Linked DNA regions of Homo sapiens: all the other regions are linked to region 2. The links come from fine-mapping of genetic effects on plasma protein levels. A gene starts in region 2. Each other region holds a variant in brackets. All regions are shown on one strand. Distances are between the middles of the regions. Region 1 overlaps PON2 (paraoxonase 2). Region 2 holds the start of PON2 (paraoxonase 2). Region 3 holds the start of PON3 (paraoxonase 3).

What was found. PIP is the chance, under the fine-mapping model, that this variant and not a neighbour inherited with it causes the effect. Protein levels are from antibody-based Olink assays in UK Biobank. Linkage for the fine-mapping came from a reference panel and not from the study's own genotypes, which makes the PIPs less certain.
Region 1: its variant is fine-mapped to the plasma level of the PON2 protein (UK Biobank, PIP above 0.99). The variant lies in the coding sequence of PON2. If it changes the protein, the assay may bind it differently, which can mimic a change of level.
Region 3: its variant is fine-mapped to the plasma level of the PON2 protein (UK Biobank, PIP 0.98).

What each region holds. Positions count from the first base shown.
Region 1 is chr7:95,410,890-95,413,650 of GRCh38, reverse strand. It overlaps PON2 (paraoxonase 2), which reads left to right. Exons shown (of 9, transcript NM_000305.3): 4 at 1,174-1,339; 5 at 1,872-1,998. The region is part of intron 1 of LOC107986822 (a long non-coding RNA gene); the gene reads right to left. Among named protein-coding and RNA genes, the nearest start is that of PON3, 16 kb to the right of the region's middle. The variant AG/G (reference allele first, on the strand shown) is at 1,258.
Region 2 is chr7:95,433,774-95,436,534 of GRCh38, reverse strand. PON2 (paraoxonase 2) reads left to right here and starts at 1,507. Exons shown (of 9, transcript NM_000305.3): 1 at 1,507-1,657. The coding sequence starts at 1,584. RefSeq lists an enhancer at 1,150-1,720 and a silencer at 1,395-1,824.
Region 3 is chr7:95,395,418-95,398,178 of GRCh38, reverse strand. PON3 (paraoxonase 3) reads left to right here and starts at 1,804. Exons shown (of 9, transcript NM_000940.3): 1 at 1,804-1,902. The coding sequence starts at 1,829. LOC107986822 (a long non-coding RNA gene) reads right to left here and starts at 1,707. Exons shown (of 2, transcript XR_007060439.1): 1 at 1,151-1,707. The variant T/C (reference allele first, on the strand shown) is at 1,164.

The sequences.
Region 1 (2,761 bases), 23 kb after region 2:
AGAATGTAATGATGAATCACCATTTTAGATAGACTGATAGGTAATTTATTAACTGATTTAAAAGAGAAAAGACCTATATCATCTCAGTGAGTACCAAAAAGCATTTAATAAAATTCAATACTCATTCCTAAAGTTCCAAGCAAACTAGAAAGATAAGGAAAATTCCCACAAAACTACAGCAAACATCATTCTTGATGGTGAAGCATTGGCTGCATTTGCATTAATGCTCAGAACAGGAAGAAAATACCCAACACCACAACCATCAGTAATCTACTAGAGTTCTTAGTAATTCAGTAAAACGAGAAAAAGAAATGTGAGATAGAAAAGAAAAAGACAAAACTGTCATTAGAGAAGCAGGGACTGGCTCAATTGCCCAGGCTGATGTGCAGTAGTGCAATCATAGCTCACTGCAGCCTGAACTCCTAAACTCCTGCGCTCAAGAGGTCCTTCCACCTCAGCCTTCCGAGCAGCTAGGACTACAAGTGCTCACCATAACACTCAGCTAATTTTTTTTTTTTTTTTTTTTTTTTTTTTTGTAGAGACAGAGTCTTGCTATGTTGCCCAGGCTGGTCTCAAACTGCTGGCCTCAAGCAGTCCTCCCACGTCAGCCTCCCAAAGTGCTGGAATTATAGGCATGAGCCACCAGGCCTGACCTAAAGCTGTAGTAATTTAAAAAGTGTTATATTGGCACAGGAATAGACATGAGACATTAAAATAACAAAACAGAGAGTCCCTAAATAGACCAATATGTAAATGTCAGAGATCTAGCACATGATAAAGGTGATATTTTGAATCAGTGGGAGAAGGATGGACTGTATGCCAGGCACTGTTCCAGGCACTGGGATCTAGCAGTGAACAAATTTCCACAGTCAGTATGTAGATGTCACTTTTCTCCACCCTCAGCTCTCCCTGGAATCACCTAGTCCACCAACCTTCTGATTACTCTCTGAAGAGAATAAATCCCTGATCTTCTTTTCAGTTATTTTCAGGCTTTCAGTATTCCACCTCCCCGTTATTATTTTTTCTGTTATCTTTTCTCTGTTTTTTGAGTTTTTGTGGCTTTATGCCACTACTTTAACCACAATCTCTATTTATCCTTCATGTACAGTTCCCATGTTAGTCCATAAAAATACTTAAGCTTTTGTATTTAACATTTTTCACCGTTTTGGAAAGGGTCTAAAATTCCCAGGACTCCACAGCTTTGCACCAGATAAGCCTGGAGGAATACTAATGATGGATCTAAAAGAAGAAAAACCA[AG/G]GGCACGGGAATTAAGAATCAGTCGTGGGTTTGATTTGGCCTCATTCAATCCACATGGCATCAGCACTTTCATAGACAACGGTAAGAGCCAATGGGCTACCAACATTTAGTAACGTGTGATGGTTCACAAATGACTGTGAAAAATAGATTTGGATCATATTTCTAGGAAGAGAAGAACAATTAACTCATGAGTGATTTCTGTATTCTTCATTACAAAGAACTTGTTCATTTGCCTCTTCAGCTGGCAGTAAGTTATGCTACATTTTGAAATTCCTAACAGGTAACACCTGAAAGAATGTTTAGATTTCATAATCTTTTCATATACCTACGATCATCACATTTAAAAAAGAACTGTATTTTTGAATTAAAGTAGAAACAGATTATGCATGAATTCTGTATATGGAGTAGGAAACACTTTCTTAAAGGTCAGGGAGCCAATGATCAGAAATAACACCAGACGGACAGCAATAGGAAAGACAGAGAATGATCTGTTAGGTCGTCTAACAGCTTATACATTCAACCTTTCCTTGCCTGTGGTATTTAAATGTCAGTGCCTGCCCAGAGGTCCCGTAGTTATGTCTTGTAAATTAACTCTGTTCTTTCAATTCTTTAGATGACACAGTTTATCTCTTTGTTGTAAACCACCCAGAATTCAAGAATACAGTGGAAATTTTTAAATTTGAAGAAGCAGAAAATTCTCTGTTGCATCTGAAAACAGTCAAACATGAGCTTCTTCCAAGGTACTTCCTCATTTTGTTCCTTCTCTAATTTATCCCCAGCATTTGCAAACAATCCCTATGGTGGGTTGTCCTGTCATCTTTTATAAGCGCTAATGTATATATTAGCTAATATGTAAGAGCTAAAGAGCTTATATTTCCTTATTTATAAATGTGTGTGTATAGTTTCCTTATAAACCAGGGCAAGCATGGCATATGAAAGTTGATGTCACTCATACTATTCACTGTTCTATGCGGACTCCTTTGAGAAATGATGAAGTGCCCGACTACAGGGTGATACTCTTCAGGCCCATCTTGAGGGTAGAAGGCAAACCCTAACATTTTTTCCTGCTGTCACCCTCCATCTTAGATGACTCATCACCCAGATGAGTGTCTTGCCAAGGAAGAATGGCCTGTTTTTTATTGGGTTTGTATGCTTTGCATGGGACTTTATACCAATCGCTTTCATAGGGTTAGTGATGGTTGCATGCTAGTAATCCCACAGAATTAGAGCCACTCAAGTTGAGAGTGAGTCATTACACTTCAAGAACATAAAGCTGGTTGAAAATGTGGCTAAGAGAGAATCATGTGTACCCCCACCCCCAGTTCAGTGTGTATTAGCCTACTGCTTCTTTTAGTTTAAACTTGATGAATATTTTTAATTTCTAATGAAATTTCATTTCTAATGAAATTAAAAATATTGCCTATCTAGGGCCTATCTATGCCTATCTAGGGCATAAGCATGTAACTTCCAATCATTCCTTCCAAAAATGCACTTGATAAAAAA
Region 2 (2,761 bases):
CTGGGCCTGATAAATTTTGCATACCTCACAAAGCTCAGACTGCTCTCAGCTATTTTTTTTCCTTACAATGTAATTGATTTTCTTTGCAATCTATACATTTTATTCATTTATTTAAAATTTTTTTTTCTTCTTTCTTTTTTTCATGAACCGCACAGAGAAAATTTATGCATTTTATTGTAAGCATTTATAAACATTATTCTAAGAAGTTATCCACAGGCTCACCACTGCCAGAAGGGTCCACGACACAAAAAAGGTAATGCCTCATGGGCTTTCAAAGGACAACTTTTTACTTCTCTTTCTACCATCCAGTATAATCCAATATCCTTAGGACTGAAGCAGAGATACACACACACACAGGGAGAGAGGTGTTTGTGCTTTTTTTTTTTTTTTTTTTTTTTGGTGAGAGGCAGGTGGGAAATTGGCATCCACTTTTATTTACTGGTTCTTTATAAAACTGATATTTGTTGAAAATTGTCAAGTGTGACCATTTCTGCCTACATATTGTAGGGTGGCAATTAAATACCGAAAACCATTAGAAGCTTATTTCAGATGTACTCATTTATTGTAATGGTATCAATCTTGATGGGTAAATTTCATTTTACTTTTAAAATTGTATTTTAAATTATTCCTTCATGTTACGGTTGTTAGAGTAAAAACGGAAAAGAAAAAAACTACACTTCTTCCCTTTGAGTTTGGATGAAAAAGACGTGTCTAAGTCCTTAAGTCTGTAGTCTGGAAGTATTAATAGAGGCTGGGCATGGTGGCTCATTCCTGTAATTCTAGCACTTTGGGAGGCTGAGGCAGGAGGATGGCTTGAGTCCAGGAGTTTGAGACCAACCTGGGCAACACAGCAAGACTCGGTCTCCACACACACACACACAGACACACACACAACTTACACACACTTAGCTAGGTGTAACGGTACGTGCCTGCGGTCCCAGCTACTCAGGAGGCTGAGGCTGGAGGGTCCCTTGAGTCCGGGAGGTCCAGACTGCAGTGAGCTATGATTGTGCCAATGTACTCCAGCCTAGGCAACACAGCGAGACCCTGTTAAAAAAAAAAAAAAAAAGTATTACGAGGCACAGGATGTTTATTTATTCGCAACTACGTCCTGTTATAAAAAGTAGTGATTCCAACGTGAAATATTTACACGACGCATCCCGTTACTTTCCCTCCCTTGGCCACCGACCCCCATCCCCAAAAGCTGCTTTCTATGTAAGTTTCTCACTGGAATAGCGAGTGAGAAATGTGTTTGAAGACTAGGGAAACGAGAAAGGTATGCGGGCTGCTAGAGGGTTTCGGGTGGGTTGTTTGAAAAAGGAAGTGAAGGAATTCAAAGTTTCACATCATGAGCCTAATGTAAGGCGTGTCCGGGCCGTCCCGAAGGTATCTGGGGAAATAGGTTTGTGAGGACAAAGACCAGGGCCAGGCCCAGGGCGGAGCCTCCGCGGCCCCGACGCAGGGACTCGGCCTAGGCGGAGGACGGGGCGGAGCGCGGCCGGCACCATCGAGCCGGGAAGATGGCACCGCCCACGGAGCTGCTGGCCAGGCCGGAGCGAGGCAGCGCGCCCGGCTCCCGCGCCATGGGGCGGCTGGTGGCTGTGGGCTTGCTGGGGATCGCGCTGGCGCTCCTGGGCGAGAGGCTTCTGGCACTCAGGTAGGTGGGACTCCCGCGCGCCCCTCCTCGGCGGTCCCCAGGCTCGGGGTGGCCGCGTGGTGCGGGGAGGGCGCAGGCTGGGGGAGGGATTCCTGCGGGACCTGGCCCTGCGGCCGGGGGTGGAGAATTTTTGAATGCTGTCCCTCCCCCAGCTAGTTGAACCCCCATCACCCCGACTCTCCGCTTCTAGTGAAAAAACTAGCAAAGTTTGGAGTGAATCGCGACACTTTCTTGAAAGTTTATAAGCCCTTGCTGCTAACAAAGTTCTCTTCTGCTTAGGCTGACAAGAGAATGCTTTGCAATTACCCAAGGGCCAAACTAGTGGTTTAAATTGAAAACAAAATGACTACTCATGCATTGAAACCTTAACTATGAAGATTTATTTCAGGTCATTGGTGCTGTTTCTCCTTGTTGCCCAAACCAGACCCGTCTTTAATAAAGTTGTTCTCCACCCATTTCTGCATAGTTTGAGAAACTCTTCAGCTGTAGATCAAAGACACTTGAAATATTCAGCTACTGTTCTTACTTCCTATTTATTCACCAGGGAAGCCTGAAGCCAGAATGCCAGACAGCGCAGACACTATTCCATCTCGCATTTTAGTTTTAATGAAAATCTCTGGTAGGTAGACATCATCGTTTATAAATTACCAACTCAACGTTTGTTTTTTGTTTATTTTATTTTTTGTAGAGATGGGGTCTTGCTGTATTGCCCAGGCTGTTCCCTAACTCTTGCACTCAAGCAATCCTCCAGCCTAGGCCTCCCCACAGTGCTGGGATTACAGGTGTGAGCTGTTCTGCCCTGCCTCAACCAAAATTTTATAGGCCTCATGCAAAAGAGTTCCAGAAAGACTGAGCACCTGCTATGTGTAATGTTCTCTCTTAGGCTTCTATAGTAGAGTACGACCCTTATGGAGTTTGATACAGGGGAAGAGAGAATTAAAATACAGTAAATGTATAAATTAGGATGTTCTAAGGACAGACACAAATGAACCGCATAGGCTTAAAGAGGAAAGATTCCATCCCCTGAGGGTGGAGTTCTAGAGGGAGGAAGAGACATTCGACCTGACCTTGAAGGGTGGGTGCAACACATATGAGCATGAAGGG
Region 3 (2,761 bases), 38 kb after region 2:
TGAGTGAAATAATAATATGACTATTATTATTTCATTATTCATTCCATTTATTTTTTATTCTTCTAATTTTTCTTTCTCCCAAGTCCATATTTTACATCCATCCATCTAATCATATTTATTGAGTCATTATTAAGCACAAAGTTCTATGGATGGCACGGGAAAACCCAGTGATCAATGCGATGGAGTCCTTCCCACAGGAGCCTACAATCTCAAGCAAAGTTCAGAATTAATTAGTGGTTAATCTTTACTGACTTCATAAAACGTATCAAGCACAGTGCAGAGCACTTGACACTCATTATCACATTTAATTTTAAGCTACCTATGAGGTGGACGTTCTTTTACAGAAGAGGAATCTGTAGCTCAATAAAGCTGAGTACTTTATCTAGGCTGGATCCAAACCCAGGCAGCCTGACTCCCAAACCCTGCATGCATGTCTACATCACACCCCAGGCCCCTCAGCTCTGTGAGCCCTCCTGACTTCGATTCCTCCTCTGCTTGCACTCTTTTAACATTAGTCATCTTAACAAGAACTCTAATCTATACAATTCAAGACGTTACACTGTCCTTTTAATACAACCCTTCTTCCATAGATTTTCTAGAGGCAGCATGGTAGAGGCAGCTCAGTTAAGGGCCCAGATTTTGGAGTCTGCTGCTTGACAGCTGCCTGACCTACAGCAAGCCACATAAGCAATCTGTGCTGCAGGTCTCACCTGTAAAATTGGGGTAAGGCTACCCACACTCCAGAGATTGTGTTGATAATTAAATGCGTTAACATAGGTGTCAGCACAGGCAAAGCACACAGTCAGTACTGCATAAGCGGTGGGCTTCATTATTCATCCTGTAATTACGTATTCATACTAGAATCATGTATCCCATAGGTCAGGGACCACCTTTTCTTTCCTTAATACCCCCAGGATTGGCAAATCTTGCTCTCTCAACAAATAGTTTACTCGGTGGAACCTAACAGAACTAATATTTCTTTCTGTCCGTAAATAAAAATAGATCATGCTTGAATGTGCTACTTTGCCCGAACTCCCCAAGTCTTCCCGCATCTTCAGTTCCTCCCCCTCCAACCTGGTGTTCATCAGGAGAGGGGAAAGAGCATTTCTTGCCTGGCAGGAACTCAAGACCTAGAAGAAAGAGGGCCTACCCTGCCAAGGAAA[T/C]GACCTTCCCCTTCCTCGCCTCTGCTCCTCTTCCCGTTTCCTGTCTTTTCCTTCTTTTCTCCTGGTGTTTCCTTCTCCCGTTAACTATGGGGACAGACGCAGCTATTCACAAGTCCGTCTGGGCAGCACACTCCGAGGTAAGGCACGAAGGTCAGGAGACAGGTTCCCGTGCCCCAAATCCTGGAGAAGATGAGTTAAAGCTCTTCGCTTCGATTGCCTTCGCCCTTCCCGCGTCTCGGGAGCAATTCAGTGTCGCCTCACGTCTGGCCTTGCAGAAGTCCGGAGTTCCGGCTCTGAACTGGAGCTCCCCGCCATTCCCGGGCCCTCCGGTTTCTCCCTCAGGCCATCTGAGGAATTGAGGTAGGATTTCGCGGGTGTTAGGAGCAAACTCCCACCACAACTCGGTCCCGGGCTCCCTCTCCGTTGAGCCTTGACCTCTGCCCAAAAAACAAGGAATCGTGGGCGTGAAGGCGGCCTTGAACCCGGGCGGCGGGGCTCGGCGGGACTCGTCAGCGCCCTGCTGCGGCACCCGGGCCGCTCAGGTAAGTAGGAGGCGTGTGCGGGCGGGGCCGAGCGGGCCCCAATCCGTACGCGAGGCAGGAACCGCCCGCCGCGCCCCCGAGAGCTCTCGGCGCCGCGCAGTCGCCGCTGGGCACCCCGAGACCATGGGGAAGCTCGTGGCGCTGGTCCTGCTGGGGGTCGGCCTGTCCTTAGTCGGGGAGATGTTCCTGGCGTTTAGGTGAGTGGCATCTTGACAGGGCGTCTTCGACTCTCTTTCTCTCCTCTTCCAAGTGAGGTCAGGGGCTGCCTGGCGCCCCCTTCCTAGCGGGTAGGAAAGAGCAGCTTTGGAACCTCACTCCTCCATCTCACCCAGCAAACCGCCCCTTGAGACTCGCTTATGGGGAAAGTGAGCTACTTGCGTTTCCAAAGACTGCCGAGCCGAATTAGTCCCATTTATTTTTTGAAGGTTATGATCCCCCACTTTGCTTTCTGAAGGTCATGACCCCCTTTTACTTTCTGAACGTGATGACCCCTTTCCCAGCTCGCCCTCAACATTCTGCTTGGGAAAAAAGGACGTCCATTGGAAACGCCGGACTTGGGAGAGAGGATCAGGCTACCAGTTGGATGTTTACGGCTGACTGAGACATTGCCCAGGTCTGGCTAACCATGCAGAAGTACTGGGTTATGGAACCTATCCTAGATTTAAAGAGCTGGCCAGACAGCAGGGCAAACCAGCTGAAACCTGCAGGCGGTAACTGGCATTTTGTAGGCATTTGACCTTTTGAAGTGGAAGATACAATGGTGATAGCCAGCCTAGAAATGTCTCAGGAAAAGTCAATACTGGGCTAGAAAGAAGAACCTTTAAGTGATAATACACATTCATGAGTGGATCGAAAGCCTCTGCTTGCTTTCAGTTGTCTTTGAGTGTTTATGTATTTCTCTTAGTTGAAGCTGGTCTTCTTAGAGGATCACGTCTAGAATCTGTTGAGGTGCCTGGTGCCTATTAGTAATACTTCCAGTTTGAGAGTTTTATTGTTACATTTGCTCCCAGTGCAACCACATGGAGAATCATAAAATAATAGTAATAATAATAAAGT